2 linked regions of the Homo sapiens genome follow. The protein of the gene in region 1 purifies or fractionates together with the protein of each later gene. This does not show direct contact. Each region holds a gene or a part of one and is shown in the gene's direction. Other genes may lie near its edges.

The links.
Region 2: the proteins of FCF1 (region 1) and KLK7 purify together in Homo sapiens (affinity purification with mass spectrometry; 2 studies listed by BioGRID and IntAct, with this or other methods). This does not show direct contact.

What each region holds. Positions count from the first base shown.
Region 1 is NC_000014.9:74,716,012-74,719,759, forward strand, and holds part of FCF1 (rRNA-processing protein FCF1 homolog), read left to right. Parts: coding exon 1-88; intron 89-3,748. UniProt on the Homo sapiens protein: Part of the small subunit (SSU) processome, first precursor of the small eukaryotic ribosomal subunit.
Region 2 is NC_000019.10:50,977,265-50,981,012, reverse strand, and holds part of KLK7 (kallikrein-7 isoform 1 preproprotein), read left to right. Parts: intron 1-525; coding exon 526-773; intron 774-1,088; coding exon 1,089-1,225; intron 1,226-3,321; coding exon 3,322-3,477; 3' UTR 3,478-3,748. UniProt on the Homo sapiens protein: May catalyze the degradation of intercellular cohesive structures in the cornified layer of the skin in the continuous shedding of cells from the skin surface. Specific for amino acid residues with aromatic side chains in the P1 position.

The sequences.
Region 1 (3,748 bases):
ATCCTCGTTGATACCAACTTTATCAACTTTTCCATAAAAGCCAAACTGGACTTAGTGCAGTCAATGATGGACTGTCTGTATGCCAAGTGTGAGTATCATACTTTTATGTTTCCGTGACATTTGTTCAGAATAATTATATTTATACAAATACATGAAAGGAGGGAGATGGGGTTCTTGTTAACTGAATTGCTGGCCATTTAATTTACAGTGGTCACCATAGCAGTGACCATGTTTAATGAATTGAAGTATAATGCAAACTTGACTGGAAAAAATTAAACTTTCACAATTCAGAAAACACTTAGAATGCTTCGAGTATCATTATGGACATCAATTTTGAACATAGGGGAATTTTCTGTTTTAGAATTCTAGATTTTAAAATTCTAGATAAATGAAAAATCTATTTTTCAGTATCTATATTCTTTTATGTTAACAAGGATATGTTCTCCCTTTTGCCCCAGTGTTGAAACACTAAATAAGACATTCTGCCATTTATGATCACAGCCCTAGAAGTTAGATAGATGATGGTCAATTCCTAAGTTTATTCAGTTTGGTATTTATTCGTAGTACAGAGGATCTGAGGTAGTTTATTTACACCTAGGTATGCAATTTACCATTAATAGATTTCCCTTGTGTATTTGTATATCCCCTCCTTTAAATGATCTTCCTTCACTACCATGAACAGGAAAAAGAAAAGTAAGGCCATCTATGAAGCCTATCATAGTAAGATCTGTCCCATTTGTAGCGGGTTTATATTTATATATTTTTCAGTCACCCGGTTAGAGGTACGAATGAAAATTAGACTTAAACTTTGCCATAGAGGATAAATTACTGGAATCAAAGGGAAAAATTTGTACCTCCCTTTTTAAGTTTTAAAGGCTACTATATAATGAACAACAGTTGCAGAGTGATAGAAATGGTAAATGTTGTTTACTGATTTATTAAAATGAGCAAGATGAGAAGATGGGGTTAAGGAATGTGTGAAGGGGTAAGAAAGCAGATTCTTTAGATGCCCAAAAATTAATTAAGAATGGCTGCAGCCGGGCGCAGTGGCTCATACCTGTAATCCCAGCACTCGCGGTGGCTCACGCCTGTAATGCCAGCACTTTGGGAGGCCAAAGCAGGCGGATCATGAGGTCGAGATCGAGACCATTCTGGCCAACAAGGTGAAACCCCATATCTACTAAAAATACAAAAATTAGCTGGGCGTGGTGGCACGTGACTGTAGTCCCAGCTACTTGGGAGGCTGAGGCAGGAGAATCGCTGGAACCTGGGAGGTGGAGCTTGCAGTGAGCCGAGATTGTGCCACTGCACTCCAGCCTGGCAAGAGAAACTCCATCTAAAAAAAAAAAAGAATGGCTGCATACATTTATTAGCTGCATACGTTTATTAAGATGTGAAGGTAGCCATCAGATGAGAAAAAAATGGAGCTAATGGAATAAAATAGTCTTCTCTACAGATCAGAATTGATTGGGTGGCAATGGTCAGGGGACCATTGTTTTTTCATATAGGCCTTTCTGTATTACTTTTTAAAGCTATATACATAAACTTTTGAAATAAATCTTTTAGAAATAATCTAAAGTTGAGGTGCTACCAGGCCTCTAAGAATGAGGCTTGGGTGACCCCATATGGGGGAAGACACTAAACTTGGTAGTCTCTTTGTATTTCCCATGGTATTTCTAATTGAGCTGCTTCTCCAGGAATGCTGTGACCTACTTATCAATGAAACGGATAGAGGGTCAAAGCATGGCCCTTTGCTTCCTTGATGAATTGCTTCCTTGACTCTATACCTCCACCAGTAATATCTAGATAGTGACTGTTAGAGCTTTAGGCAGGATAGCTTTAGTCTTATGGCTTTCTTTAAATATGTATACTTTTTTTTTTGAGACAGGGTCTTGCTTTGTCACCCAGGCTGGAGTGCGTTGGCGTGATCTCAGCTCACTGCGACCTCCGCCTCCCAGGTTCAAGCAGTTCTTCTGCCTCAGCCACCCCAGTAGCTAGGACATGCCACCACGCCTATCTAATTTTTGTATTTTTCGTAGAGGCGGGTTTCACCATATTGGTCAGGCTGGTCTCAAACTCCTGACCTCAGGTGATCCACCCACCTCGGCCTCCCGAAGTGCTGGGATTGCAGGCGTGAGCCACCGTGCCTGGCCTTGCTTGCCTTTATACTTAAAGGAAGGCCTTTCTCTTCCTCTTACCTTGAAAAGGCCTGTTTGATCTTTACATGGTTCCTGGTCTCTTCTATTTCCACTTTATAGTCCAACAAGGAAGGATAGTTTGCTTCCCATTGGCTTTCTCTTCTGCCTATGAATCCTGAGGCTGTTACTTTCCCTTTCCTTGTAGTGGTTTTCCTGAGCCTGCTTCCCTACTTCAGTTGCAAGCCTTTGCTCACTTCACTGCTACATGGCTCTGAAATTGGTCCTCTTAAAGAACACATTGCCTTGTTTCATGATCTCAGTATTAAAATATATATATATATTGAGACAAAGTTTCACTCTGTGGCCCGGGCTGGAGTACAGTGGGGTGATCTCTGCTCACTGCAACCTCTGCCTCCCAGGTTCAAGTGATTCTCCTGCCTCAGCCTCCCGAGTAGCTGGGATTATAGGTGCATGCTGCCACTCCCAGCTAATTTTTGTGTAAAGTAGAGACGGGGTTTCTCTATGTTGGCCAGGTTGGTATCGAACTCCTGACCTCAAGCATTCCGCCCACTTTGGCCTCCCAAAGTGCTGGGATTATAGGCATGAGCCACCACGCCTGGCCAGTATTAATATACTTCTAAAAAATTCTAGCATAAAAAAATGGAAGTTGAAGCCTGGGCAACATAACGAGACCCCATGTCTACACATAATTTAAAAATTAGCCAGGGGGCCAGGTGCGGTGGTTCACACCTGTAATCCTAGTGCTTTTCAGGAGTTCGAGATCAGCCCGGCCAACATGGTGAAACCCCATCTCTACTAAAAATACAAAAATTAGCCAGGCGCAGCACCATGTGCCTGTAATCCCAGTTACCTGTGAGGCTGAGGGAAGAGAATCTCTGGAACCTGGGAGGCAGAGGCTACAGTGAGCCGAGATCGTGCCACTGCACTCCAGCCTGGGTGAGAGAGCGAGACTCTGTCTCAAAAAAAAAAAAAAAAAAAAAAAGCATGCATCGTGGCATGCACCTGTGGTCCTAGCTACAGATGCTCAGGTGGGAGGATCACTTGAGCCTGGGAGGCTGAGGCTACAGTGAATTGTGATTATGCCACTACACTCCAGCCCAGGCAACAGAGCAAGACCCTGTCTTTAAAAAAAAAAAAAAGAAGAAGAAGAAGAAAAGAAAGTTGGGCTGGGCGAGATCTTCACCCCGTAGTCCCAGCAGTTTGGGAGGCCGAGGTGGGAGGAGTTCTGGGCTTGAGCTCAGGAGTTCAAGACCAGCCTGGGCAACATGGTGTGACCGCATCTCTACAAAAAAAATTTTTTTTAAATCAAGCTGGGCATGGTGGCTCATGCCTGTAATCCCAACGCTTTGGGAGGCCAAGGTGGGTGGATTGCTTGAGCCCAGGAGTTTGAGACCAGCCTGGCCAACATGGCAAAACCCTATCTCTACCAAAAGAAACCACAAAAATTAGCTGAGCATGGTGGAGCATGTCTATGGTCCCAGCTGCTTGGGAGGCTGAGGTGGGAGGATCACTTAAGCCTGGGAGGTCGAGGCTGCACTGAGCTATGTCCATGTCACTGCCCTCCAGCCTGGGTGACGGAACAAGAACCT
Region 2 (3,748 bases), on another chromosome or scaffold:
CTCTCCCTGGGGCTCTGTCCCCCTCTCTCCCTGGCTCTCTGTCTTCCTCTCTCTGGGGCTCTGTCCCCCTCTCTCTCTGGTCTCTGTTCCCCTCTCTCTGGGTCTCTGTCCCTCTCTCTCTGGGTCTCTGTCCCTCTCTCTCTGGATCTCTGTCCCCCTCTCTCTCTGGGTCTCTGTTCCCCTCTCTCTGGGTCTCTGTCCCCTCTCCTCTCTCTGTGTCTCTCTCCCCCCTCCTCTCTCTGTGTCTCTGTCCCCCCTCCTATCTCTGTGTCTCTCTCCCCCCTCCTCTCTCTGGGTCTCTGTCCCCCCCTCTCTGGGTCTCTGTCTCCCTCTCTCTGGGGCTCTGTCCCCCTCTCTCTCTGGATCTCTGTTCCCCTCTCTCTGGGTCTCTGTCTCCCCTCCTCTCTCTGTGTCTCTGTCCCCCCTCCTCTCTCTGGGTCTCTGTCCCCACCCCGTCCCCCAGGTCTTTGCACACCCTCTCTGTCACAGTGTCTCTTCTGAATCTGTGAATGTCACTCCTCGCAGTGAGTACACCGTGCACCTGGGCAGTGATACGCTGGGCGACAGGAGAGCTCAGAGGATCAAGGCCTCGAAGTCATTCCGCCACCCCGGCTACTCCACACAGACCCATGTTAATGACCTCATGCTCGTGAAGCTCAATAGCCAGGCCAGGCTGTCATCCATGGTGAAGAAAGTCAGGCTGCCCTCCCGCTGCGAACCCCCTGGAACCACCTGTACTGTCTCCGGCTGGGGCACTACCACGAGCCCAGATGGTAGGTGGCCTCAGTGACCCAGGAGTGCAGGCCCCAGCCCTCCTCCCTCAGACCCAGGAGTCCAGGCCCCCAGCCCCTCCTCCCTCAGACCCAGGAGTCCAGGCCTCAGCCCCTCCTCCCTCAGACCCAGGAGTCCAGGCCCCCAGCCCCTCCTCCCTCAGACCCGGGAGTCCAGACCCCAGCCCCTCCTCCCTCAGACCCAGCAGTCCTGGGCCCCAGACCCTCCTCCCTCGGAACCAGGAGCCTGAACAACAGCCCTTCTGGTCCTCGCCCCCATCCTCTCTGACTGACAGCTCTCCCTGCTCCTCCCTGCAGTGACCTTTCCCTCTGACCTCATGTGCGTGGATGTCAAGCTCATCTCCCCCCAGGACTGCACGAAGGTTTACAAGGACTTACTGGAAAATTCCATGCTGTGCGCTGGCATCCCCGACTCCAAGAAAAACGCCTGCAATGTGAGACCCTCCCCCCCAATTCCTCCCCAGTCCTGGGTACCCTGTCTGCATGCCCCAGGGACAGAGCTTGACCCGAGTGACTGGGTACCAAGCCCGGCCTTGCCCTCCCCCCAGGCCTGGCCTCCTCAGCTTTTTCCACCTCATTCTCTGCCTAGGTCAGGGGTGGGAGTTTACTTAGGGGCCAATGTGGCCCTGGGGATGAGACAGAGAGTTTAATAGGGGTGAGAAAGTGGGGGTGGGACCAGGGAAGGAGACTGAGGTGCTGGCCTCAGGCCCAAACCTTAAGGGGGCACCAAAAACCTCAGTGATTGAGATAAATCATAATGCAATATTTAAAAATAAAAATAAAAACTCATGCAGAAGTCCATGATGGACAAAATGTCACATTTTAAATAAAGAGCAGGTGGATCTTACTGAATTTTCCCTTGCCGTAAGTACTAGCGTGGCTCAGCACAGCGCTGTACTGGCACTGTCTTCATTTAAAATGTGGATACCATGCCCATCATGCAGTTTTATGTATTACATTTGATTTCGTTAAGTACTGCATTGAAGTATTGTGTATTGCAGTTACTGAGATTTTGTGCCTGAAGCTGATGACTCACTCACCTGACCCTGGCCCTGGTCCCGGGGAAAACACTCTTTCTCTCCACCTCCTCTCTGTTCCCTCTTTCTGGCCTTTTGTCATCCCCTCTGTTTCTGAACAGTCTTCCCACATCTCTCTTTGTGACATAATTTCATTTCATTCTTTTCCTCTTTGTTTTTTCTCTGTGTTGAGCTAGCTTGCTCTCCCTCCCTTGTTCTCTCTCCATGCCCTCCTCTCTGCTCTCTGTCTTCTCCCTCTTTCTCTTGCTTCTCTCTCTCTCCTCCCCTCCCTCTCTCCTCTCCCTGCCCCCCTGCTCTCTCTTTTTTCCTCTCTCTCTGTCTCCTCTCTGGCCCTCTCCTCTTTCTCTCTCTCCCCCACTTCTCTGTCTCTCTTCATCTCTCTCCCTCATCTCTCCTTGCCCCCTCCTTTTTACTGTCTCTCTCTTTCTCTTTCTTCTATCTCTCTCCTCTCCCTGCCGCTCCCCCATCTCTGTCTTTCTTTCTCTCTCTTTATTCTCCTCCTCTCTTCCAGTCTCTCTCTCCTCTCCCCACCCCCACCCCATCTCTCTCCCCACACCTTCCCCCCCTTTCTCTTTGTCTCTCTCTTCTCCCTCTTTCTTCTCCACCCCCATCTCTCTCTCTCTTCTCTTCCCACACCCTCCCCATCTCCCTCATCTCTTTGTCTGTCTCTCTTCTCCCTCCTTCTTTTCCACCCCCATCTCTCTGTCTCTCTCTCTCCCCATACCCTTTCCCTCTTCCTCATCTCTCTTTGTCTCTCTCTCCTTTCCCTCTTTCTTCTCCACCTCCAACTCTCTCTGTCTCTCCACACCCATCCTCCTTGCTCACATCTGCACCTTCAGCTGTCAGGGGATGTGGGATGGTGAGTGTTAGGGATAGAGGAGATGGGAGAGAGATGACTGTCCTAGAGAATAGGGTGTTCCCCTTCTCCCCTGGTGAGGGCCAGTTTCATGAATGTGCAAGCTCTGCACGGACACAGAGCCCCACACTCAGAAGGGTCTCAAACTTAGTCTAATGCATTCCTGCTGTTGTCTTGAAATTCTCAATAATTTTTGAACAAAGGGCCCTGCATTTTCGTTTTGCACCAAGTCCTGTAAATTATGTAACTGGTCTTCACCCTGGTCTCCGAGACCATCGTGTCCCCCTTTCCTGCGCCACAGGGCACGCATCCACCCCTTGGAGATGATGTTCCTTCTCCCACTAGCTTGGAGCAGGGTCCTTAACATTGGAAAATAAAGAGTGCTCTGATCCTGGAAGCCCCACCCCTTCTCTGCAATTGGTCTCATTGGCCAAGGGTCAAACCAGTGTCTTCAAAGGACCTAGTGTGTCCCTAGCACTAGCTCTCCCATTAGTCCCCAGAGACAATGAGTCTCTTCTCATTGGCTATGGTGGAAGTCCATAATCTGCAAGACAAAGACCGATAACTGAGGAATGTATGAGAATGAGTTGGGCTTTGATCTGAAGCCAAAGTTAATCTCCGGCTCTATTCCCTCTAGGGTGACTCAGGGGGACCGTTGGTGTGCAGAGGTACCCTGCAAGGTCTGGTGTCCTGGGGAACTTTCCCTTGCGGCCAACCCAATGACCCAGGAGTCTACACTCAAGTGTGCAAGTTCACCAAGTGGATAAATGACACCATGAAAAAGCATCGCTAACGCCACACTGAGTTAATTAACTGTGTGCTTCCAACAGAAAATGCACAGGAGTGAGGACGCCGATGACCTATGAAGTCAAATTTGACTTTACCTTTCCTCAAAGATATATTTAAACCAACCTCATGCCCTGTTGATAAACCAATCAAATTGGTAAAGACCTAAAACCAAAACAAATAAAGAAACACAAAACCCTCAGTGCTGGAGAAGAGTCAGTGAGACCAGCACTCTCAAACACTGGAACTGGACGTTCGTACAGTCTTTACGGAAGACA